Regions from separate parts of the Homo sapiens genome. Here all the other regions are linked to region 4. The links come from fine-mapping of genetic effects on gene expression. A gene starts in region 4. Each other region holds a variant in brackets. All regions are shown on one strand. Distances are between the middles of the regions.

The links. PIP is the estimated chance that this variant, and not a neighbour inherited with it, causes the effect.
Region 1: its variant is fine-mapped to the expression of ATP10A in testis (GTEx, PIP 0.99).
Region 2: its variant is fine-mapped to the expression of ATP10A in tibial nerve (GTEx, PIP 0.96).
Region 3: its variant is fine-mapped to the expression of ATP10A in whole blood (TOPMed, PIP above 0.99).
Region 5: its variant is fine-mapped to the expression of ATP10A in iPS cells (iPSCORE, PIP 0.95).
Region 6: its variant is fine-mapped to the expression of ATP10A in lung (TOPMed, PIP above 0.99). The same link has a PIP of 0.9 or more in fibroblasts.

The regions. Positions count from the first base shown.
Region 1 is chr15:25,682,134-25,686,222 of GRCh38, forward strand. It overlaps ATP10A (ATPase phospholipid transporting 10A (putative)), which reads right to left. Exons shown (of 21, transcript NM_024490.4): 17 at 1,153-1,353. Among named protein-coding and RNA genes, the nearest start is that of LINC02250, 110 kb to the left of the region's middle. The variant A/G (reference allele first, on the strand shown) is at 1,927.
Region 2 is chr15:25,907,180-25,911,268 of GRCh38, forward strand. All of the region lies in intron 1 of LINC02346 (long intergenic non-protein coding RNA 2346), which reads left to right. Among named protein-coding and RNA genes, the nearest start is that of LINC02346, 6.9 kb to the left of the region's middle. The variant T/A (reference allele first, on the strand shown) is at 1,910.
Region 3 is chr15:25,794,415-25,798,503 of GRCh38, forward strand. The region is part of intron 1 of ATP10A (ATPase phospholipid transporting 10A (putative)); the gene reads right to left. Among named protein-coding and RNA genes, the nearest start is that of MIR4715, 52 kb to the right of the region's middle. The variant T/C (reference allele first, on the strand shown) is at 1,611.
Region 4 is chr15:25,861,185-25,865,258 of GRCh38, forward strand. It overlaps ATP10A (ATPase phospholipid transporting 10A (putative)), which reads right to left and starts at 2,143. Exons shown (of 21, transcript NM_024490.4): 1 at 1,464-2,143. The coding sequence starts at 1,912.
Region 5 is chr15:25,788,825-25,792,913 of GRCh38, forward strand. All of the region lies in intron 1 of ATP10A (ATPase phospholipid transporting 10A (putative)), which reads right to left. Among named protein-coding and RNA genes, the nearest start is that of MIR4715, 58 kb to the right of the region's middle. RefSeq lists an enhancer at 1,473-1,572. The variant C/T (reference allele first, on the strand shown) is at 2,234.
Region 6 is chr15:25,881,557-25,885,645 of GRCh38, forward strand. No RefSeq gene overlaps it. Among named protein-coding and RNA genes, the nearest start is that of ATP10A-DT, 18 kb to the left of the region's middle. The variant G/C (reference allele first, on the strand shown) is at 2,515.

The sequences.
Region 1 (4,089 bases), 180 kb before region 4:
ATAGCACCTGAAATTCCGGGCATTCTCCCCCAGTTTGAGCCCTTCTATTCCTTCCACTTTGACCAGTTTTTGCCTCTCTTGGTGGTGGGTCCCTTAGAATGTTTCTTAAGAGCGAGTCTTCACTTTTAAAATTACACGATGGATGTGTCCCAATGTTAAAAGCAAACAGCTATATACCCATGGGCAGAAATGAAAATAACCTTGATATAGATGAATAGAGTCTCTATTACCCGGGTGACCAAATGTGTATTTGACCCTGCCAAGTACCAGAGCAGCTGGCACGGGACCTGCAGGAAACACACACTGGGGAAGGAGCTCTGGCTGAGCACTTAGGGAAAGTGCTGGCTAGGCTCTTCCTGTGGGCCACTTAATTCCACAGGACAGGACACACTCCCAGCGTCTTTGTCCCACAGGTGGCCGAGGAGGCTGAGGCCTGGCCAAGGATGGGAACTCCCCTGAAGCAACAGATAACAAGCAGAGGCCCTGCTCCCCTCCCTGGCCCTTCGCCTCCTGGCACCCCGTGCATGCGGCCTGCTTCTGTGGGAACTGAACATTCTCAGAGGTGGCCAGGGGAAGTTAACTCATCAGTGAATGAATCTGGAATTAGGGATTATTGCAGGAGAAATGAGACTCCATGTTCTTTTTGCCCACATGGAATAATTCAAGGCAAAGAAAAGCACTTGCTGTCTATTTTAATGGCTGGCTAGAAACAGCTGGTCATCAGTGTGTGAATCTATGTGGTATATTAATGCCAGTATGTATTTAAATCTATTTGCTCTTTCAGTGGCTCAGTGGCTTCCTTGTGGGTTTGTCTTCTTGTTAATTCCCGTTCAAAATAAGTCACATTTTCTTCCTTGCTTTAGAAAAATCCCCCCTCTAGCTTCAGTGATCCCCTGTGACTGACTGGACTCTGGGCTTTTCTTGGGCTCCTGGAGACTCTTGGAGGGGGGACAGTTTCGCTTACAACACTTGATGCACTGCAGCCAAGCAGAGGGCAGCCCTTTTTCTCCATCCTCTAGAATGGTGAATTCTAGAATTTCAGTTTGTCCAGGGTGTCCATCTGAAGGGAGGCTGGGGGACTGGCACTTTGGAAGAGTGAACGTGGAGGGCAGAGCTCAGGAGGTGGAAGGCGGAGACTCGGGGGAGCTTTACCTCCATGTTCTGGCCACTCTTGTAGAGCTGCGGGTTGGTCAGCAGCACATTGGCTGGCACATCCCTGTCCAGCACCCCAGTCACGAGCGGGGGAAGTGACGAGAAGAGCAGATTAAAGAAGATTAGATACCACTGGTCAATCATGGTAGATGCAGAGAAGCCACAGAAAAACTGGAACCAAAACAGGAGGCCCACGAACATCTGAAATCAAGAAAGGAAGAACAGGAACAGGCGAGTCTTCAGCCATTGCTGAGGATTCTCATCCGAGGGAGCTGACAGGCCTGCAGAGTTTCACAGTCAAGATTAAATGTATTGGCAGCGATTTCTGCCAAAGACAGCCATGACCTTGAGCCCTGCTGCTGGCCTCTGCCTCTCCCTCTTCCTCTTTCCCTTCGCCCTCCTCACTCCCTTAAGAAAGAAGAACTGGCAGTGGGAATTGGGAATTCCCAGGAGCAGCACTTGCGGGGATGAGATTTTTGTGCTTGACAAGCTCTGGATCATTAACATAAAACAAAATCAAGGTTTCACAGGGGTGTAGGGCTGCTCACATTTCAAGAGGGCCAGTTGAGTATGAGCTGTGGCATCTTCCCTAGTGGCCCTCCTCTGTCTGTGACCCCAGACAAAGCCTACCTGTGGCTATATCTCTGCTCCTGTCTCTTCTTTAGTGACCTGCATACTCTCTGAGGAGGTGCAGTGGACAGTGACTGACTCCCACTGAGGGGAGGACACACAAAAGCACAATAGCAAAGCCAATGACCTCATCAACATCGCTGC[A/G]GTGACCTGATTGTCCACGGGGACCTCTGCTGGGGGGAGAGGGAGAGGCATCATCTCTGATCCTCATAGCTACAGCTACCCAGCTCAGCAGAACAGGAAAGTGAGATTCAGGGAGGTGGAACAGCCACCTCTGGCCCCTGCTCACTGGGGTGGGAGCAAGGTCAGATCTCTTCTCACTATTGCTAGATTCCTGAATATCAGCAGCCTGAGTGCATTTATACGGTGGACATGACAGTTTAGTGATTGCAAAGCATTCTAACACTCATGAGCTATGTAGCTGGGCACAGAGCATGAACTCCTCAGTCTCGCTTTCCTTGCTCATGACATGGGCATACCAATGATACTCAGCCAATGCAGCTGCTGTGAGCGTGAAGCGACCCAGTACATTTAGAGGACTCACCAGAGTCCCTGGAGAGCTATAGGTGATCGCCTACGGTGTATGGTGGTGAGTGGTATCGTTAGTTCCCTTGTTTGGGACTCAGGCAGGGCGAGTGCTCTTATCCCACATACAGAGAGGGAACTTGAAGTTCCAAGACATCAAATGACTTGGCTGAGGTCACGGTGTGAGTAAGGAACCCAACTTGTTCAACTGCGATGGGTCTTGGCTTGGAGGGCAGGCACAGTCCCAGCAGGGAACTCTGACGCTAGACAGACATTTTCTGCTGGGCACCGCAAGGCCTGGGCTTGGTTCTGGAGCTGCAACTATCTACCCTTTTGACCCTGACTCAGTCACTTCACCTCCCTGAGCTTTTGGCTTCTTGACCTGAAAGTGACTTGTGAAGATCATAAGAAATAATAGCTTATGTTGAAATAACCCACCATGCCACACAGCCTCCAAGTCCTGTGTCAGACTATGATTTAAATGTCTTAATATGCAGCCTTTCCCTACATGCTGAAAACGAACATTTGGTTTTTATTCATTGACTTTCTTCCCTTCCTCACTCCTACGGCTGGCTCTCGCTCACTCACCCCCGCAGGCTTGGCCTAGTGAGTCATCGGTAGCAAATACAGTCAAGAGAAAGAGAAGATAAGTACTCAGATAATTGAGATTTTTTTTCCTATAGTACCAAAAAGCTTTCTTCCCAAACCACTGTTGTTATGGAAACCTTTCTTCTCTGCTTTTTATTGGAAAGAAAGGCCACCTTATTCCTAAAACTAATGAATTTCTCATTTCAGGAGGCAGAGTGATTATCCTTGAACTCCTCATGTAGATTAATGCTTGTTAACAAAGGCCTGGCATTTTTATGGAATAAAAACAGGCGTCCTCTTCTCCTTTCTGCACCCTTCAATGGGGAGGGACTCATCGCAGCAGGCAGGAGGCTGTGCCCGTTCCAGGTGACCACTAGGGCCTTTGTTTGCATCTGAAGTGTTTAATGATTTGGCCTACATCATTCTTGCCCTCCCTTCGATCTGAGACATTTTAACTGGGAATTAGGGATCAGCTGGCTCAACTCACAGGCTTTGCTTTGTTTTTTTAAGATTTAAAAGAAGACTGGACATGGTGGTTCATGCCTATAATACCACACTTTGGGAGGCAGAGATGGGACGATAGCTTGAGGCCAGGAGTTTGACACCAGCCTGGGCAACATAGCGACACCCTGTCTCTACAAAATAGAAAAAATTAGCTGGGCATGGTGGCCTGTAGTCCCAGCTACTCAGGAGGCTGAGGTAGGGGGATTGCTTGAGCCTAGGAGTTTGAGGATACAGTAAGCTAGAGTGGCGCCACTGCACTCCAACCTGGGCAACAGAATCAGACCCTGTCTTTAAAAAAAAAAAAAAAAAAATCCAAAGCAGGAATTAACTTGCTCAAGAACCCACAGCTAACAAGTGATAGAAAGGGGGCTTGGATTCTTCCCTGCCCACCCCCATTCATCCCTCCACTCCTTCGGGAGCTGAGAACCTTTAGGCTTACAACTGTGCACTTGAGGCCTCAAAGTTCTGGGGATTTAATGCCAGGGCTGGGAGAAAGGAGGTATGAGCCGGCAAGCCCAGGAGTGGTGTGACACAGCCTTCCTCAGATAGTCCCAGGCACAGCCTAATCTGAATTAATGTCTGGGACCAAACCTATCAAGTTAAACATGCCCTGACTGGATCTGAGCAGCTGTATGCATTTGCTAGAAGACGCTCCGAAAAATGAAGGGGGTGAGTGTGAAGGGGAAAGAG
Region 2 (4,089 bases), 46 kb after region 4:
AACACCATAGTTACAGTAATGCTCTCCAAACTTTTTCTCGCAAATTCCTAAAAGTACACTGAAAAACTGTATACCTTTTTGCACATTGCAAAGATGGCTGTTGACATGTTTCACCCCAAGTTTAAATATCTGAAAAGAATGTAATTTTGGTATATCGGAAACATTGACCTTTAACTATATATATATTTATATACACACAATATATATACATATAGAATACGTTAATACAGTATATGTTTTATATATATATACACAGACACACAGATTATGTGTTACCACAATATGTGATATATGTATATAGCTATATATGTATATATAACATATACTGTATGAATTGTGTGTGTATATATAACGTATATGTTATGACGATATTCAATACTTTAGGTGTGTTTGGAGTTATATGCCCCAAATTATGTAATAATCCATCATTACAAATTATTTTCAATCTGACTACTTGATTCAATTTTGTTAAAAGTGAAAACTGGAAACAATATTACTGTCTGTGTGTGTATGTGTATGTGTGTGTATATATATATAAAACACATATATTAATATATGTTCTACATACATAGTAAATGTATATGCCCTAAATGTATACAATATAATATAAGTGCTCTAGTAATATGAAATACACTATCATCCTTAAAAAAAGTACACAAACAAAACCTTTGACAACTGTAAATTGTTTTTCCTTCTATGTTTATTTTTTCTACTTTTCCACACAATTTTATTGTAATATTGATTTTTTCTTGATGTCTTTTATTGATTATTCTGTCATACCTCTCTGTCACATAATATATATATAAACTGATCAAAACAACAAATGCATTAAAATCATTATTAAAATTATTAAAATTGTTTTGGGAATGCATCACTTAATGAAACAGATGAGAATTCTTTCCCAATTAATTCATGTATCCATGGATGAACATTGCTTGCTGTTAGAAGGCGGTACAGTTCTGCATCACATCCATCCCATGTTAGCTTTTATAGATGTTGCACTGAAAAGTCAAACCATCTGTCACATCTTAGTCAATTTCTGTTAAAAAAAATAGACAATTTTTATACATAAATAAATGTTAACATGCAATTTGAGGAATATTACAAAAAACATTGAGAAATAAATTATCGAATCTGTCTTTTAAGAGTGCCAATAGCAAGATTAAAACAATAGCGATGAGATATAATTCCATTATGTATACTATTGAATTGTAAAAACAAGATAACAATGCTGGTCAGCAACACTTAATTTCTAACAATAAAATGTTACACGTAACTAGACTGAGGTACATGGGTGGAAAGCATAGAAGAAGCCATGATATCACTTCAGTAAATGTGTAGGCAAGCATGCACTGGATTCCAGGGTTTGGCTTGAAGGATAATTAGAGTTTTTTTTTTAATGTCAAAAAAAAAAATTCATTTTAAAAAGATAATTGACCAAAATTGTCCTTGGTCTAACCCCTGGGGTATACTTTTTATTTTGTATTAACAAAAGGCAGAGCATAATGAACATTTTCTCTGATCAAATAAAAGTGAGGATTTATGCAATTGGAATATTTTACAACCTTATTTGACCACATGAGTTTGATTTCCTTATTGAATGATACATGAAATCTGAAGGAAAGCTCACCAAATATTAATGTGCAGGTCTTGTATATCTCGATGGTCCTGAGAAAACATTCCATTCACAACGAAAAGAATCTGCACCATTAACCTACACTGCTCCTGCTTTTTGGAGAGATTTTTCCTTCTAGCTAATGATATCTCTACTAATGAAGTAGGAAAGAACAAAAGGTATTTTTAGAATTCCACACTTTTTTTGCTGTGCTCTGGTAAGACCTTCTCTCGGGATCTGTGAGTCCTTTGAGAGTAATTTGTGGGGAGTGGAGGTGGGTTGGAAGGGGTGAGG[T/A]CACTCTTGCAGCTGCACTGTAGCAATGCTGAATTCCGGCGGTTCCACGCCCGGGCTTATAGGGACAGCACAGTATTCAGGGCCAGAAGGCGGAGGCCTTGGCAGGAGCAAGGTGTTTCATCAGCTACCGTGGGGTTCTATTCAGAAGGGTCTCTTGGTACGGTTGTCTTTTACACTCTTTTCTGAGACTGGGGATGGGCCAGGCACAAGCCCTGCTTTTGTCACATGGAGAGGCATTGTGGAAGGTGATTTCGTGTGAACCAGCTGCGGGGGTCGGGCAGGGAGATGAAGAACTTAGAGAATTGACACCTCACAATGGCCTGCACCCACACCCTTCTCAGAAGGCACTGCCTCTTCGCTTGAGGGGTAGCTTGAAGGCCCCTGAAAGCAGGGAACGAGGCGCGGCTGTGCGCGCGCGGCAGGTGCACAGGACCCACCTCGCCGGGACCCACCTCGCCGCAGCCCCTGCGCGGCCTTTCCCTGCGCGCTGGTTAGGAGGCTCCTTCTCCTGGCCCACCCCAGACCTACTGAATCCCAGGCTCTGTGGGGAGGCCCAGCCATTTGTCTTAGGAAGCAGGCCAGGTGATTCTGATACACAGGAAAGTCTGAAAACCTCTGTCTCCTGTCAGAGCGCGGTGGCTCACGCCTGGACTCTAAGCACTTTAGGAGGCCAAAGCGGGAGGAGCGCTTGGGCCCAGGAGTTCGAGACCAGGCTGGGCAAAATGGTGAGACCAAGACCCCGTCTCTACAAAAAACTACAAAACAGAAGAAAAACAAAACAAAAAGCATGAAAACCTCCGTCTCCTTTCCCAGCAGGGACCAGCCCTCCCACTCCGCTGATGATGGGGGTACTGGGGAGCGCAGCGGTGCGCAGGCACCTGGGGTTCCGTGCCTCTCCTCACCCGCCGAGCCCCGCAGCAGTCCCGCTGCCTCTGCTCTGCAGCACCCTGACTTGCGGTGCTCCCCACCCACCGCCGTGCTTGTCAGCTCCAACTCCGTGCTGGACCTTGGCTGGCTCTGAGCAGGTTTCTCCATTGGTGGAGAATTTGAATATGTTTCATTCAAGAAATCCCAGCAAAACACAAGGGTAATGCTGAATATTTTAAATATCGGTGGATAAAAAGTGAATGAAACACACACACAAAAGTAATACAATCTCTTAATAAATATGAAGAGATTCTATCTTTCAAATATAGAAATGGAAATGAGAAAAATAGCATTTTGCCTACTGTCAAGGACTGAAGGAAAAAAGGAGATAATAGTCAGTCTCTACTAAAAATACAGCTGGGCCTGGTGGTTGCACGCTTGTAGTACCAGCTACTCTGAAGGCTGAGGCAGAAGAACTGCTTGAACCTGGGAGGTGGAGCTTGCAGTGAGCCGAGATCGCGCCACTGCACTCCAGCCTGGGCGACAGAGCGAGACTCAGACTCAAAAAAACAAAAAAACAAAAAAAGTTTGCAGGAAGGATAAAACAGTAGCTTTCCGTCCTGTTGGTGTGACTGTAATCATTAAAGGATCACATTCTTGAGAGCAATTTGGCAAAACGGATCAAGAATCATTCAAATGCTTACCCTTTAAAGTCATATTTTACTTCTAAGCATTTTGCCTACAAAAATAATGCACATTAAAATTTCTCTACAAGGATATTAAGTTTAGGATAATTTTTATGATAAAAATTGCCCGTAGCATAAGTATTAATGAAAGGAGAATAGTTAAATTTATTAAGGTAAATTCATCGGGTGGACATTATACACCATTTCCAATCTGTTCAAGGAAAGTTTAATGACGCGGCAGAAATACGTTATATGCACAGAGTGGGATCTAAAACCTGAATCACAACATGCATTTCACTTAGAGACGAAAGAGATTGAGATCTTGATTTTGTTCTGTTTGACTTGCACTCATTCTCCCAATCTGTCTTTCACATGCTGATTGAGCACTTTATACATCAACTGATCAGCATTTTGAGGAATCTTACCAGGAAACTGCTTGCTGGCCAAAGTTTTAATTTTGGCACCTGCATCATTGCTGTGCTTGGGCAATTGTCTGAATATTTCTATTACATCTTGTCATTATTTTATAAAAGGGAGAGGGGAATGGAACTATGAAAGTGCTGTGGCAAGATTTGTCATTCTCACAAAGGCAGTGACAATATGAAGTTGGACATCTGAAGTGGGCTG
Region 3 (4,089 bases), 67 kb before region 4:
TCCATAACATATTTACTGCAAATATCCCTAAATTGTAATGGGCTACAGAGTATGATCAGTAAAGTACCTTAAGCAAACAAACACTGCCCCGTCTTGGAAGATCCAGCCCTGGGAATAGAGGGGACTTTAACACATGGATCAAAATATACCATGGAGACATGATTTCCCTGGGCACAGTGTGCAGTGACCTAAGACACCTTTGTGAATCCCGGCTTGGAAGCCGACGTCAATTTTCCCAGTCAAGCATCAACAGCAGCAGTGCCCTCGCGAAACTGACTTTACCCGGTAATATTCCGAGAATGGATAACAAGGCTGAAACGCAGAACTAACTACAAACTGAGTTTTCCTCCTTGGGTAAAATACAGTGAGAAGGGCCATGCAGATGGTCATCTTCTCTGGAGGCCACACACGTGGATTCCACAAAGGCCATTGCAGGGTCATTGTCACCAGTCAGTCTTGGCAGTGTCCCTGGAAGGTGTGCCATTCCCATTATCAGGATGAAGAGGGGGTTGAGTCAACGTCCAAAGACTCACAGCTGGAGGTCGGAACAGCAGCTCTAAGGAAGGCCCAAAACTCAACTGGCTCATACCTCCCAATTTTAGAGTATTTGGGAGATAGGAAGTGCTGAGAAATGGGCATTGCTAAATCACAGTGGTTCTCTCCTATCTTTATTTAGGAAAAACAATTGTTTTTTCTTTGGGAAAATTGTGTAGGTTACAACTGGCTATATCCCAGGTATCTTATGTGACCGCGCAAGCATACAACAATGAGCAGCGCCCCCTTCTGAGGGACTGAATCAGCCAGGGCATCCCCACCTTCTCAGCCACACAGCCCACAGCCACACAGCCCAGCCCACAGGACACCACCGTCCACGTGACTAAGACACAGGCCCACGGAGGGAGGGCCTGCGCCAACTTGGCACCTCCAGTCCGATGTTTAACATCTAATGAATGGCGACCTTGGGCTTTCCCTGCCACCTGCTGAGAAGAGAGAGTGACAGCCTCTTCCCTACACTCTGCCCAATGATTTGAGATTGAATACCTTTCCTATTGTAAATAGGAACAAGAACTGTTTTAACATTTTTGGATTTCTGATGAAGGGAATAACAACCTAATGCCACAGAATGAGCTCTGATTTTGGTTTTAGTCATATGTTATGACACTTATGCTTACTAGTAGGGGTACTTGCTTTCCCAAAGTGTGCCAGACAGGTACTAGCACTAAGACATCTGTCTGGAAGTATTTCTTTAGATATCATTTTATTCCTTCACTCTGCAGTCCTGTGTAATAATACACACTGGGAAAATTTTGACATGTGCTATAGTGTGGATGTTTGTCCCCTCCAGACCTCTGCTGAAGACCGATCCCCAGCGTTAGAGGTGGGGCCTCATGGGAGGTGTCTGGGTCGTGGGGGTGGATCCCACATGGATAGATGATTGCCCTGGGGGTGTAGGGGATGTGCGAGAGTTCTGGCTCTATTAGTTCCTGTGAGAGCTGGTTGTTAAAAAGAGCCTGGCACCCCCCTCCTCACCCCTGTGATTCTGCTCGCCTCTCCCTTCCCCTATGAGAGGAAGCAGCTGAGGCTCTCACCAGATGCAGATGCTGGTGCCA[T/C]GCTTCCTGTACAGCCTGCAGAACCGTGAGCCAAATAAATCTCTTTTCTTTGTAAATTATCCAGCCTCAAATATTCCTTTATAGCAACACAAAACGAACAGGGACAACATGTGAAAATAGTTTGTTTCAGGGCTAGGCGTGGTGGTTCACATCTGTAATCCCAGCACTTTGGGAGGCCACGGTGGGAGGAGTTCGAGACTAGCCTGAGCTCTATAAAAAACAGAAACAAAATTAGCCAGGTGTGGTGGTGTACCCCTGTGGTCCCAGCTACTTGGGAGGCTGAGGCAGGAGGATTGCTTCAGCCCAGGAGGTTGAGGCTGCAGTGAGCCACAATAGCACCACTACACTTCAGCCTGAACAAAAGAGCGAGACCCTGTCTCAAAAAAAAAGTAGTTTGTTTCAGAGCTTATAAATATGAGTGTGGCACTGGCCTCTTTAATGCACACTGCCATGGTCTAATTATGGCCTGTGTGCATGCATGCAGCAATGCCCGAGCAGCTGGAGTTGGAAAAGAAGCCTCCGTTCATGCACAAACGTGGTACTCATGAGTCATCGGGGAGCTGCTAGCCCACCTCACAACGTGGCTTCTTCCCACCCACACTGGGGGACCTTCTCCCATAGTCATGGACCCTCCACAGGTGAGGCAGACATCGTCAGAGCCACATGTGTCCTGGGCAGGTGCTACCTGCCTGGAACCTGCCGGATATCCCTCTGGGATGGGTCAACTAGGCCACAGGACAATGTGACACTTGACAGAAGGTGGTGACAGCCGTAATTTGAGCTGGCCTTGTAGAGGCCTTCCTCCTTCCGTAGCTTTGGAGATGTTTAAAAAATTTAAATTTTAATTGCCAAATAATAATTGTATATAGTATGAGGCACAATGTCATGTTTTGATACATGTATACACTGTGGTATGGTTAAATCAAACCATTAACATCTCACATACCGATCTTTTTTTCTGATGAGAACATTTAAAATCTACTTGTTAGCAATTTTGAAATACACATTGCTATTAACTATGGTCACTGTGCTGTACAACAGATCCTAAAACGACTCCTCCTGTCTAAGGGAAACTTTGTATCCTTTGACCAAAATCCCCCCAAGTCCCTTCCAACCTCTGGTAACCCCCATTCTACTCTGCTTCTATGAATTCAACATTTTTAGGTTCCACGCGTACGGGAGATCATGCAGTGTTTGTCTCTGTGTGGCTGGCTTATTTCACTGAACATAATGTTCTCCAGGTTCATCTGTGCTGTTGCAAGTTCTAGTAAGTTGGAAATGTAATTTTTTCAGAAAAGAATTCACAAAGTACATGTCTTTGTGAATAAGGACTCCTCAGTGGCTTGAGGACAGGCTAGCCCCCTCAGAGAGAGTCCCCTGAGGCCAGTGCCATGGTGGCTGCCCTGGCCCCTGGCCCCTGCCCCCACCCCACCCTTTCAGAGGTTCTGTGCTCCCTTGAACTCAATTCTTCCTGACTTTCTGCCACACTTTTCCATTTTGTGCTAGGTTTTCTCTTAGAAATTACAGACTCTCTACATACGGAGACATGACACGCTCTGGGCTCCAGGTGCCAGTGCTGCAGGTCTGGAGGGGGCTCAGTGGATCCTTGGGCCCCTCCTCGGGGGACAGCCATCCAAGAAGGGCAGCCCAGCTCCACAGCACGCAGATCCTTCTCTGTCACCAAGGTCAGAGCTGGGACTCCTCTGGCTGCCACTCTTTTGGGGCAGGCACATCACCAGGAGACTGCCGCCCTGGGGGGTGAGGGTGGGGAGAGAGACCTTCAGCTCTGCCTTTACCCTCCACGTGCCAGCACAGCCATGCTACCCGATCTCACCCTGGGCTGGCTCCTCGTCTATGTCATATCCTCCAGGGACATCTACAGGGATTAAACTGAAAGTGTGTTACCCAGAGAGCACAATAAGAAGTTGTCCAAGGAGAGAGTTAAATGTAAGACTTCTGTGTTGTTATAGACTTCATTTTAAGCTTCTTAAAAATATAACCCTTGCAAAATTCGTCAGGGTCACAAATCTGGAATCCGGCCTAGTTAACTGGAAGAGGGAGGGAGGCCCTGGGTTGCATTCAGCCAGCTACTCCCATCACTGGAGTTAAGGAGCTCCTCAGCTTCACTGACATAGGCAGTCTCAGCAATGAGAGCCCTGCCCTGGCAGGTGAGATGGACCCCAAAGCAACAATATCAAAACTCCAAACAAGTCTCCTGGAGGCGAATCAACACTCTGGAGGCACCTGGTGCAGTGTGCGCTTCATGCTATAAGGTCTGAATTCTACATACAGGCCGCACCTTCCCCAAGCCAGTGCTGGGAGGCGTGGGGGAAACCAGTGCCTGTCCAGCCCTCCCCCTGCCCCAGGCAGTCTGAAGTCCCATAGCCACCAGGAGGGCTCAGGCGGGAATCCTAAAGCCTCAGCAGACACCCACGCAAGTCCATTTGTCATAGATAAGGGGGCCGAAGCCCAGATTCAT
Region 4 (4,074 bases):
GAGTTACGTGCACGCTAATCTAATACATTCCTGGGCTCAATCCCAGGCCTGCTGAGTGAGACACTTTGGAAAACTGTAATTTTAACAAGCGCCTTCAGTGACTCTTACAAAAGTTTCAGAAGCACGAGCAAAGAAATATTCAAAAAGCTGTGCGGGCGGGAAGACCTGGGTCAAATCCCAGTACCACGACCTTGCTGCTGTGTGACACTGGGCAGGTTTACTTAACCTCTCTGAACCCGTTTACTCTGTTTACAAAAATATGGAGCATAACCACTGCAGTGTTGCTGGGAGGGTGAAAGGTACTCAACTACAGAGGCACGCATCCATGGCTTCATCCAAGCTATGAGTGCCTGTGTCTAAGGCATTCGTGAATGCCTACGTTTAAGAGGCAGGAGCCACTCTGACCCTCCTCTTTTAGGGGAACAATCTGCCACTAAGAGAGCATAGGGCTTCCTAGAGTCTCCCCATGCATAATGGAAGCCAGATACCGCTAATGTTCTATTCAGAAGCCCATCTCAGTCCCTGTTCCGGGGTCAAGCAAGGTGAGGCAGGAGGTAACGATGGGCTGAGCTTTGGAGGAAAGCTAAGACGACCCACCTTTCTCAGGGACAGGGCCTTGAGGTGGTCCAGGCTGCTGGACACAGCTCCAAGATGGATCTACCAAGGGGCTCTCCTGGGGTGGAGAGCATAAAGGATGAAAAGGCCGCAGGCCTCTGGACAGGTCCGCCGGAGACTCTAAAACTCAGGGAGGGAAAAAGAGCAGGAGTGGTCCATCGCAGGGTCACCCCTGGTACTGCCCGTGGCAGGGCTCACAAACACCCCACAGCCTCTTTCCCCCAGGAAGCAGGTTAAGATGAAGAAAATTAGGCAGGCAGCTACCGGGCGGTGCCTGGCTCGCGGCTCATGGCTCACAGTGGAGGATGGACACTGCTGTTATTTCCCCTGCCCTGGTACCTGGGCCGTGCCAGACATATCAGCACTTGGCGGCAGTTTCACTTTGCTGCTGTCCTGAGCCGAGCTGTTAGCAGACTGAGCTTTACTGTCCTGTGCCGGCTGTTCAGAGACCACTGTGCCTGGCCGAAGACTGAGGCAGGGACTTCAGGCCAGGGGGCCAGGCTGGCTTTTCCTGCCTTTCACTTCAGGTGGGAGCGGCTGTGGATGAGGATGTCCAGCGGCCGTCGGTTTCTAGCCTTGGGATCATTCTGGCCCCGACACGGAGTGACAGGGGATCCCCACGCGTCCCCGCATCCAGGGCGCCCCTTTAGCTGCGGCGGAGGCACAGAGAGGCCTTGGCGGCGCTGTGGCTTCGGTCGGCACCGGGTCCCGCGCAGCCGGGCCCTCCACCCTGAGTGGAGCTGCCTTCTAAGCACCCAGCCCCTGCCAATCACTGTGCCCAACACCAAGTTCCCGGGGCGCCCTGCCCTGCGCCACCGCGCGCTCGCTCGCCCGCCCGCCCAACTCACCTGCTGAAGACCAGGCAGCCCAGGTGGTTGATCTTGTGGTCGGAGCGGTGGCGGCTGTAGTCCTCCCACAGGTCCCTGAAGGCCGTGATGGCCAGGATGAAGAGCACCGGCGCCAGTGCCAGGCCGGGCTGGAAGGCGTTCACCGCCGGCACGAAGTTGAGCAGCGCGATGAAGACAAAGTACACGTTGGCCGGGCGGTGGAACTGCTCGAACAGGTTCTTGGGCAGGAAGGACAGCAGCGTGTACTTGGTAGTCTTGAGCCGGTTGTCGGCCAGGTGCTGGGCACACCCGCGCCGCCGTCGCCGCTCGCCCTTGGCCGCGCCAGCCGCAGGGTCCTCGGCGCCCGGGGGCGGCAGCAGGTTGGAGCGCACCGTGCGCGTCCTGCCCTCTCGGCGCCTCCGCCGTCCCGGAGGCCCGGGCTCCTCGGTCCCCGCCGGCTCCCGCTCCATGGCCGCGTGTCGCCGCGCCCGGCTCCTCCGCCGCTCACGCCCGCCCGCGCCGGCCTCTTAGGTTATCATCACTCGCGGCCCGGGCGCGGCGGTGCGAGCTCCCCGCCTGCGGGACGCACGGAGACCGCGGTCAGCGCGCCGCCTGGCCGGCCCAGCGCGCCCAGCCCGCGCCCAGCCCCGTCCACTCCCGTCCAGCCCCGCCGCCCGGCCGCAGTCCCCAGGGCGCAAGCTGGGCGGGTGCCGCACAGAGCCCCCTTGTCCTCGCCGCCCGCCCCCGGCCCGGGTCGTTTCCGCCGCGGTGGCCACGGCCCCGCCCTCGTTCCGCGCCCGGACTGGGCCACGCCGGATAGCGGGAAACAAAAAAAGCCCGAGCTGGAAACTTCAGAGAGGTTTAGTTTCGTTTCCCAGAAGCATCAGTTCGGTCCCAAAACGCTGCAAACGCGCGCTGCCTGCAGTAGGAGAGAGGAAACCGCGAAGCGCGAGAAAAGGCGCCCCCGTCCCCAAGCAGCCCGCGCGCCCTTCCAGGGGCCAGACCTGCTCCATCCTGGACGGCGAAACGACCTCGGGAGACCCCGGTTAGGACCTTACTCCAGGGATCAACTGGAATCAAAATCCAAAGGATCCATGGCATCCAGTGCTCCAATTTTTAAGTCTTTTTTACGCAGGACCTCTGCTCCTGGGGAGCCCTGGGAAGGGCGATTCCGCGTTGCCTCTAAGAACTTCTTTCCTACCCCACTTCCCAGCCCCCACCACTTTCAGATTCCGTTGTTGGGCGAACTAGACCGTTTCCTTTCCACCATCATCATTACTGCCTTTCCTTCCTCTCCTAAATAAATTCTTTTTCTTTTTTCTGTTCTTTCTTCATGGAAAGGAGAAATATATCGCTATAGCAAAGACAGAATTTGGTTTGCAGGTATTTGAGTGTCTGTTTCCCTCCCTGGGAAATCATGAGGACCGAAACGCTCCTTGTGCGCTGTAGCTCTGAGGTGGCTGTCATGGCCCGGACGGCGGGGGAGGCGAGGATGGTTGTGGGGAGGCGAGGATGGTTGTGGGGAGGAGAGGGGAGCGTCAGGAGGGTGTCCCAGAAGTGTGGGGCGAAGGGCTCCCCTCCACATCATGGGGCATCCGAGAAGGGGTGGGAGAATAAGCACGGCATGGAAAAAGGAGCTGGGAGTCCCCCACGTCCGCAGTGAGACCCCACAGATGTTTCATGGCTGTGACTGTTTGCCTCCCACTCAAGAAGTACAGAGATGAGAAGCAGTTATTTCTTGCCCAGGAGGCCGTGGCTGGGCGGTTGGCCGTGGCCCCAGGCTCTTCCTGGGGGTGCCTGCTAACAAGGCACTGCCCTGGATGGACTCAAATCACGTCTTCGCCAGGACCCTGGCTTGGGGAGGCCCTCCCCTCCAGCACCCTGGCTTACCCGGCTCCAGTTATGACATTCTTACATCTCTGCCCAGTTTTGCCACCATCCACAATGTTGCCCAGAACCCAGTGTTAGAAGGTAGAGTGGTGACAGGTGTGAAGAAAATAATCCCATCCCCCAGTCACAGGGGTGGGCTTTTGACATGTAGAGGCCCAGATCAGGGAAAGGTTTGGCTGAAGTCTGCATTGTTGGGGAAAGGAGTCAGGTCTCACAGTCAACCAGCAGAAACCCAAACGGAGCATCAACTGCAAATGAAGGCCCACAGCGCCTGCAGTCTTGAGGCCTCACATCCCATGGCTCCGTGTTTTCCTCTACCAGCCCACCTGGTGACCCCCGAGGCCTTCGGCCTCCCTACACTTCGGCCTCCTGTCTTCACAGGCATCCCCGTGGACCCTTCGCCCAAAGTCTCCAGGGGTGTCCGCGCCTACCAGACTCCCAGCTTCAGCCAGTCCACACTGTTGCCAAAGTAATTACCGCCTCATTCCATTTGCTTACCCTGGAGCTTCCAGGAGTACTCCTGGTGCTTACAAAGCCAAATGCTGATTCCTCAGGCAGAGGTCCCTTGAGGCCCTGAGGGGAACCAGCTTGCTGATTTTCTTCAGCCCCTCCCTGGTTCAGGCCCAGCCCCAAGGTGAGAGGTCTCCTTATCCTTCTCAGAACAGTCCTTACTCATCCCATCCACATTCCGCTCTAAGGTTCCAAGATTCTGTGAGTCACAATGCTCCTCAAGTCTGGAATC
Region 5 (4,089 bases), 72 kb before region 4:
ATTATTTCATTGGAAGAGAACAATTAATCCCTACAAAGAGAAAGCTCCAATTAAATCTGTGTTACATTCGACTAAACCTAGAAAAATCCGGATGCTTTGTGCCTTATAGATGAAACAGGTAATGTGTTATTTTGCGGGGATGTTTGTTTTTGAGACAGGGTCTTGATCTGTCATTCAGGCTGCAGTACAGGGCTGTGATGATAGCTCACTGCAGCCTCCAACTCCCAGGGCTGAAGGGATCCTCCCTCCTCAGCCTACCAAGTAGCTGGGACGACAGGTGTGCACCACCACACCCAGCTAATTTGTTTTTTATTTTTTGTAGAGATGGGGTTTCACCATGTTGCCCAGACTGGTCTCGAACTCCTGGGCTCAAATATCCACCTGACTCAGCCTCCCAAAGTGCTGGGATTACAAGAGTGAGCCCCCATGCCTGGCCAGAATACATTTTTTAAGAAAAAAGAAGACATGTTAATGAACCTAACATGCAGACCAACTAGATTGAGGCCTCCCAAGTGAGGTCAGCCTGGGGGACTCCTTTGGCCAACTAACAGGAGAAGTGTGTAACACTTTAAACAAACAGCAAATGTGAAACCAGGACACAGTGAGGCGAGCCCTAAATGGGAGGATCACCACAAGAGATCCAAGAATCTTGTGGAATAATCATTAGTGCCAAGGCCGATGCCTTGGGAATAAGAAAACCCTTCTTGGAATTTATTTTTCATATGGTGGACCAATAAAGAAGTGTGTGTGTGTGTGTGTGTGTGTGTGACAGAGACAGAGAGAAAATAATTTTACATCACTTAAAAAAGACCAAACAAGACTCTAAAATTATCGCAGATTTCATATACACTCATTATACATCAGGCAGAGAAGTAGAAAGCCCAGAATGCCAGCAACAATAGCTTTCAAAGGTTTCTCCGCCATCAGCGCTGTTGAGATTTGGGGCTGGATATCCTTGATGGTGGACAGCTCTGGGCTCTGCACTTTGCTGAGCACCATCCCCAGCCTCCTCCTATAGATGCCAGTAGGGCTCCCTCCCTACAAGTTGTTACAACCTAAAACAGCTCCAAACATTGTCAAATGCCTCCTGGGGGTGCAAAATCGCTCCCGGTTGAGAAATGCTGCTTTAAAACACCCAGGACAAAGATTCTGGAAAATGGATTATTAAGTAAATGTTTACAGAACCAATGTATTTTTAAAATCATGAAGGTGAGAACTCAGCACTGAAACAGCAATGGCAAAATCCGCAGTGGGAACGTGAGCCAAGTATGTTGCATAACGCCCAGAATGTGTCTTCCTTCCACCATAAACTGAAACATCTGCTCCTTCAGTGAGACATGCTAATGGATTCTGAATCTAATACTAAAAGTGAGAGGCAGTGAGAAATGATAGTTGGAGTGCTTTTTCTGGAGTGAATCTTCTGATACCAAAATTGCCAAAAATACAGTAGTGTAGACTAGATGCACAAAATGTATTTTCTGAACTACTTTCTATTCTGTATGTCTCCTCGAGGTGATGTGAGCTCTAAGAAATGTCCCAGATGTGTGGAAGCACATGTGTGCATGGAGCAGACTGCTCAAATGAGTCAAGCTGAATGGAAAATACTGGTCGCTCTGTGGTAAGTCAGAAAGGGCTGAATGTTGTCCCAGCGGAACTCACCCCCAGAGGGCAGGGCCTCTGGCCTCTTTTTAGAATGAAGAAAGGATGCAGAGTCTCTCAGCCCAGAGAAAGTGACACACCATGCTATGCTCACATCACATAATTACTCACTACAATGCAACACTGAACACCCAGATTAAATCTATTTTCCCCAGGAAACACTAGTTTGCGAAAGCAAAACGATGCCTAAACACAGTATCACTTACAAACCTCTTAGTAAGTTTTAACATGAAACTTTTTTTCTGACAAATCATTTCTACTGTGGCCTTTTCTGCATATAATGGTACATTCTCAAAGTATCTTAGTAGACCTCAAGACATCTCAATAATACTGCCCACTAGTAATGGATGTAAAACACTCCGGGGCACTTCTAGAGTTTTCAAGGTAATTTCTTATGCATTAATTCATTCATTGGTATGACAATCCCAGGAAATGGGCCGGAGTTGTGCGCTCCTTATTCCTACGGAGAAGTTTTGCATTGTAAATATTTTTTCCTAAGAGGCTGTAACAATTCACACTCCTCCGTCAGTATCTAAGAGTCTCCAGGCCCTTTTTTCTGCAAAACCAGCTGCTT[C/T]GTCTTTTTAAAACCTCCCTGCAAGTGTTTTTTTTTTTTTTTTTCAAGACCCTTGCTCTGTCGCCCAGGCTGGAGTGCAGTGGCACGATCTCGACTCACTGCAACCTCCGGCTTCTGGGTTCAGCAATTCTCCTGCCTCAGCCTCCCCAGTAGCTGGGATTACAGGCGTGCCCCACCACACTTGGCTAGGGCAGGACATCTACTTTTCTTTTAATGTGCATCTCCCTGCCACCCAGACCACTTGGCAGGCTCCTCTGTGAATTAACTCTGCATGTTTCCCCTTCAATCTTTCTTTTTTTCTTCTTCTTCTGATTTATTTAGTTAGAGTCAGGGTTTCACTCTGCTGCCCGTGCTGGAGTGCAGTGGCACAATCTAGCTTACTGCAGTGGCACAATCACAGCTCACTGCAGCCTCGACCTCCTGGGCTCAAGCAATCTTCCCACCTTGGCCTCTGGAGTAGCTGGGAGTAGCTAACATGCACCACCTGCCCAACAGTTTTTTAACTTGGTTGTAGAGACGGAGTCTTGCTATGTTGCCCAGGGTGGTCTCAAACTCCTGGGCTCCAGCAATTCTCCCGCCTCAGTCTCCCAAAGCACTGTGATTACAGGTGTGAGCCACCGTGCCTGGCCTCCCTCACTTTTTCTATTGTATTCTTTCCTCTCTTCTTGACCACGAAACCTGTGAGAGCATTCATATTGAAAATATTAACCCCTTTTCTGTCTTTTGCTTTGGAAATATTTTTCTCTAAGAGCCATGGTTTGTCGGTTTTAACATTTCTAGTTGTAGCATAATTTTGTTATATAATCCTTTCAGATGTTTATATAGGTAAATATATCTGACTTCTCCAGGCCTGGCTAAGACAGTCACCTATGTCCCTGTATTATACATGTTGTTTCCAAGTATTGCTTGTTTGTTTTTTGTGGGAGGAGTGCAGAGTATTTTTTTTTTAAAACAAACATTTAAATGGTCAAACCAACTGATGTTCATTTTCCTCTGTTACGACCTGAGCATCCAATGCTGCTTCTTCCAGACAGCCAATTGTGTCAATATTGCTAACTAGTTCTTTTCCCACTGAACCTACATACCCACTCTGTTACAGATAATATCATTTGATTTGGGCTTATTAGGTTCCATTAATCTACTTGTCCTTTCTCATGTCAACCCCACATGGCATGGTAGTACAGTATGTTGGATCAGTGCCACCATTAGCTTCAGCGCTGAGAGGAGTCTTCATGCAAAGGTACCTGCTCAGGGTGGAGCCCAGAGACAGGGCCCTGGGCCAGCACACTGGGGAGGTCCTGCTCTGCTCTCTGCAAAGACAGTGGCCACCAGCCCTCCCCCTGCCCCAGCCAGTCTGAGGTCCCATAGCCACCAGGAGGGCTTAGGCGGGATGCCCCAAAGCCTCAACAAACACCCATGCAGGTCATTTGTCATAGAAAAGGGGGCCAACCCCAGACCCACGTGGGTGACAGATGTTGCATGTATTTAAATGACCCTGCAAATGCTCCCGGGGGTTAGATGGCCTACTGCAGCCTCTATGTGGATGTCCAACCCCAACCCCCCAAGCACTGGCCTGGTGAGGGTGAGGCCCGCGTTTAGAATTCAGATCTTAGAGCACGAAGCACGCACTGCACCAGGCACCTCCAGAGTGTTAATTCACCTCCAGGAGACTTGTTTGGAATGTCAATTTTGTTGCTTTGAGTTCCATCTCCCCTGCCAGGGCAGGGCTCTCATCGCTGAGACCATCTTTACCTGCACAACTTCACCTGCAGCCCCAGTTCCAATATCTGTTACAAAAAGTTGCTCCTTTTCAATCTTTTTTTTTTTTTTGAGATGGAGTTTTGCTCTCGTTCCCC
Region 6 (4,089 bases), 20 kb after region 4:
AGAACAGAAAGAGAATGAGTCAGAAAAATGTTTTGAGAAAATAATGGCCAATTATTTCCCAAATTTGTTTAAAATATAAGCTTCCATAAGCCTCCAAGAAGCTCAGAAAACTGCAGGCAGGATAAATAAAACAAAAATACAACTAGGCCCAATAGAGTCAAACAGCTGAAAATCAAAGATGAGGAGAAAATCTTTAAAATAGCCAGATAAAACCAGACATGTTACATAGAGAGAAATTATATATAAATTCAGCTACTTCTCATCAAAACCCATCAACCTATAATTCTATATCGAGGAAGAAATATCTGTCAAAAATAAGGACAGTGTGAAATAAGGACAGTTTAAGATAAACAAAAGCTGAGAGAATTCACTACCAGCTGACCTGAGTTAGAGGAGAAGCTAAAAGTTCTTCAGGTGAAAAGAAGTGGAGAAGACTGGATATTGTAAATATAAACCAAAAAAGATACTGTATTATATTTAATTTCTGAATGTCTTTGAAAAGCAAGCAATTGTTTAAACAAAAAATTATACCAATCTATTGTGAGGTTTCTAACTTATGCAAATTTAAAATATATGACACTGATAGCAAAAAAGTGGAGGTTAAATGAAATCGCACTCTCACTGCAACACTACAACATATAGTTATTAAAACAACAACAAGTCAACATAGTGGACTTCTAATACATTCAACAAATTAGATGTTATAGGATATTTCTTTGAAAAACAGTTTACCAAAACCAGTGCAAGATGAAGGTAAAATTTGAATAGCTCTATATCAGTTAAAGATATTAAATTCAAAATCTAAGTCCTAGGCCAGGTGCAGTAAGTAGCTCATGCCTGTAATCCCAGCACTCTGGGAGGCCTAGGCTGGAGGATCACTTGAGCCCAGGATTTCAAGATTAGCCTGGGAAACATAGTGAGATCTCATCTCTCTTAAAAATAAATTTAAAAAATTAGCCAGGCATGGTGGTGAACACTTTTAGTCCCAGCTTCCTGGGAGACTGAGGCAGGAGGACTGCTTGAGCCTGGGAGGTCGAGGTTGCAGTGAATCATGATTGTGTCACTGCACTCCAGCCTGGGCAACAGACCAAATGTCCATCTCAAATTTAAAATGAATAAAAATAGAAATAAAAACAAAATCAAAGTCCTTCCCATAAAGGAAACTCCAGGCCCAGGTGGTACAATTACACACAGATTAGAATGGCTCAAGTGAAAAGGAATAATACCACCAAATATTGGCAAAGAATGTGAAGCAGCTGGAACTCTCAGGCATTGCAGGTGGAAGTGTAAAGCAGGTACTGAGGCGGGAGGTGGGACTTGACTCCAGAGGTGGGGCTCAGACTCCAGACCAGATTGAAGACTAGCTGAAACAGGGAAGAGGCAAAAGCACCTCTCCATAAGACATGCCCACCAGTGCCATGTCAGTTTACCATTGCCATGGCAACACCAGAAGTTACCACCCCTTTCCATGACAATGACCTGACAACCCAGAAGTTACCATCTTTTTTCTAGAAATTTCTGTATAATCCACCCCTTGATTTGCCTGTGATTAAAAGTGGGTATGAAATGACTGCGGAACCCCCCTGAGCTGCTACTCTGGGCACACTGCCTGTGGTTAGCCCCGCTTCACAAGGAGCAGTACCCCCTGCTACTGCTGTGCACTGTGCTGCCATCAAAGTTGCTGTTTAACACCACCGGTTCACCCTTGAATTCTTTCCTGGGTGAAGCCAAGAGCCCTCCCAGGCTAAGCCCCAATTTGGGGGCTCGCCTGTCCAGCATCAGCACAACCACTATGGAACTATGTGTGGTAGTTTCTGTTTTAATGAAATATGTTTATCTGTGATCAGCAATTCTAGTCCTAGTCATGTACTCTAGATAAATGAAAATATATGTACATAAAATGGTTGTTCATTGCAGCTTTATTCAAAATAGCCAAAAACTAGAAACCACTGCAATGTCTATCGACAAGTGAATGGATAAACAAAATGTGTTATTTCCATATGATGGACTGTTATTCAATAATATCAAGGATACATTCAAGAACATAGATGAATCACAGTACATTATGCTGAGTGAAAGAAGCCAGAGATGAAAGACTCCCTAATGTTTGATTCTATGTAGATGAAGTCCATGGATAGGCAAAACTAATGTAGCTTGGAAAACAGTCTAAACAATGGTTGCCTCTGGCATTGAGGGGTGGAAAATGATTGGAAAGGGTCTTAAGGGAACTTTGTGAGGTTTTGTAATATTCTATTAACTGAACAGAATGCCAGTTGCCTGGGTTTTTGCATTTCTTTTTACTTTTGTTGTTACCTTTAAGAAGGAAAGGTGTCAGTGGCTGGGGAAAGCATAAGGGATCTTCTGGAGTGTTGGCAATGCTCTACTTCTTGGCATGACTGTATTTACTTTGTGGTAATCCTTTAACTGTACATTATGATGTGTGCACTTCCCGGAATGTGCAGTATGCTTTTATAATAAGTCAAAAATTAGAAGCCCTTTGGATGACTTACTGTC[G/C]ATATATGCTATCCTCCCACAGTCTAGTTACGCGTGGCATCTGCATAGTCAGGCTCAGACATTCTTTAGCCACCCCTGAAGCTTGACTTCCATGCTTGAGCAAATACTTCCTAATCCTGAGAGCTGTCAGGGTTCACTTGAATTCTCTGGTGCGGTAGGAATCATTGTGCCTTTCCCAGAAGGAAACTGATCTAATTGGCTTAATGAAGCCAAGAACCTCTTATTCAACTCTCTTTTCCTTATAACAACATGGTATTATTTCTTTTAATTATGGACTATCACATGGAAATTGCTGACTTATTCTAGCTCCATTAAGTGGACACACTAAGATGAACCAAAATACTTACAAAAAGCACGCAAACACCCGCTGCCTGCCTCTGCTCCCTGCACTCAGTCTCTGTGGTCCCTTGCACCTCACCTTCCCAGTTTGGCTCTGCTTCTTGGTTCAGCTTTAACAGCCTGCTTAGTGCATGCCTCTGTAGCTCCTAGGTCCTGATCTGAGAGAGGGTGCATCTGGCCAAGTGCTTTCAGAGGGAGCATGAGGAGCCTGCCCTGACCTCTCTTGGCCCCTTATTGGGAGACGCCCTTTGGCTGTGATGCATAACCTTACTTTAATGTGGTTGCTGTACACAGCATATTGGATTCCGCCTCATAATAATCTGCAGATCTGTGAGTCTGAGCAATCGATGCCTGTCTAACTGCCACTGTCACTGCATTAGGCTGTCAACTTTCTCAAAGACCTTTCCTAATGCACTGACATCCAAGTCAGTCCCTTTTTATTTCATTTTGTTATTATTTTTTAGAGACAGGGTCTCTCTCTCACCCCAGCTGGAGTGCAGTGGCATGACCATAGCTCACTGAAGCCTCAAACTCCTGGGCTCAAGCAATACTTCTGCCTCGCCTCCTGAGTAGCTGGGACTACAAGCACATACCGCCATGCTGAACTAATTTTTAAGTTTTTTTTTTTTTGTAGAGACAGGGTCTTATTATGTTGTCCAGGCTGGTCTCAAACTCCTGGTCTCAAGCAATTCTCCTGTCTCAGCCTCCCAAAGCGCTGAGATTAGTGGTATGTACCTTTTTGACACTACTCCAGTTGTGTTTGGCAGCTTCCTTCTTCCTGACTTACTTATCTTCAGAGCCCTCATCACCACCTGGTGTTACAGTCTATGTGTTGATATCATTTTCTACATCGCCCCCAGCCTATTTGAATATAAAGTCCATGAGAGGGAAAGGATAGAAATTGTGTTTACTTTGTCCTCTCCTGTAGCTCCAGTACCTGCAACAATGACTGGCGCATAGTAGATTGTCCATAAATATTTGAAAAATGAAAAAATGAGACAATTGGGAAAAGAGAATGAGAAGCTGATAAACATTTGTTGTGCACACACCATAATAATAATAACAATAATAATAATAGTAATAATACAGATGCTCCTCGGCTTATGACGGGATTACGTCACAATGAACCAGTGGTCAATGGAAAATATCTTAAGTAGAAAGTGCATGTGATATACCTGACTTGCTGAATATCCTAGCTCAGCCTAACCCACCTCACCCATGCTCAGAGTGCCTGCA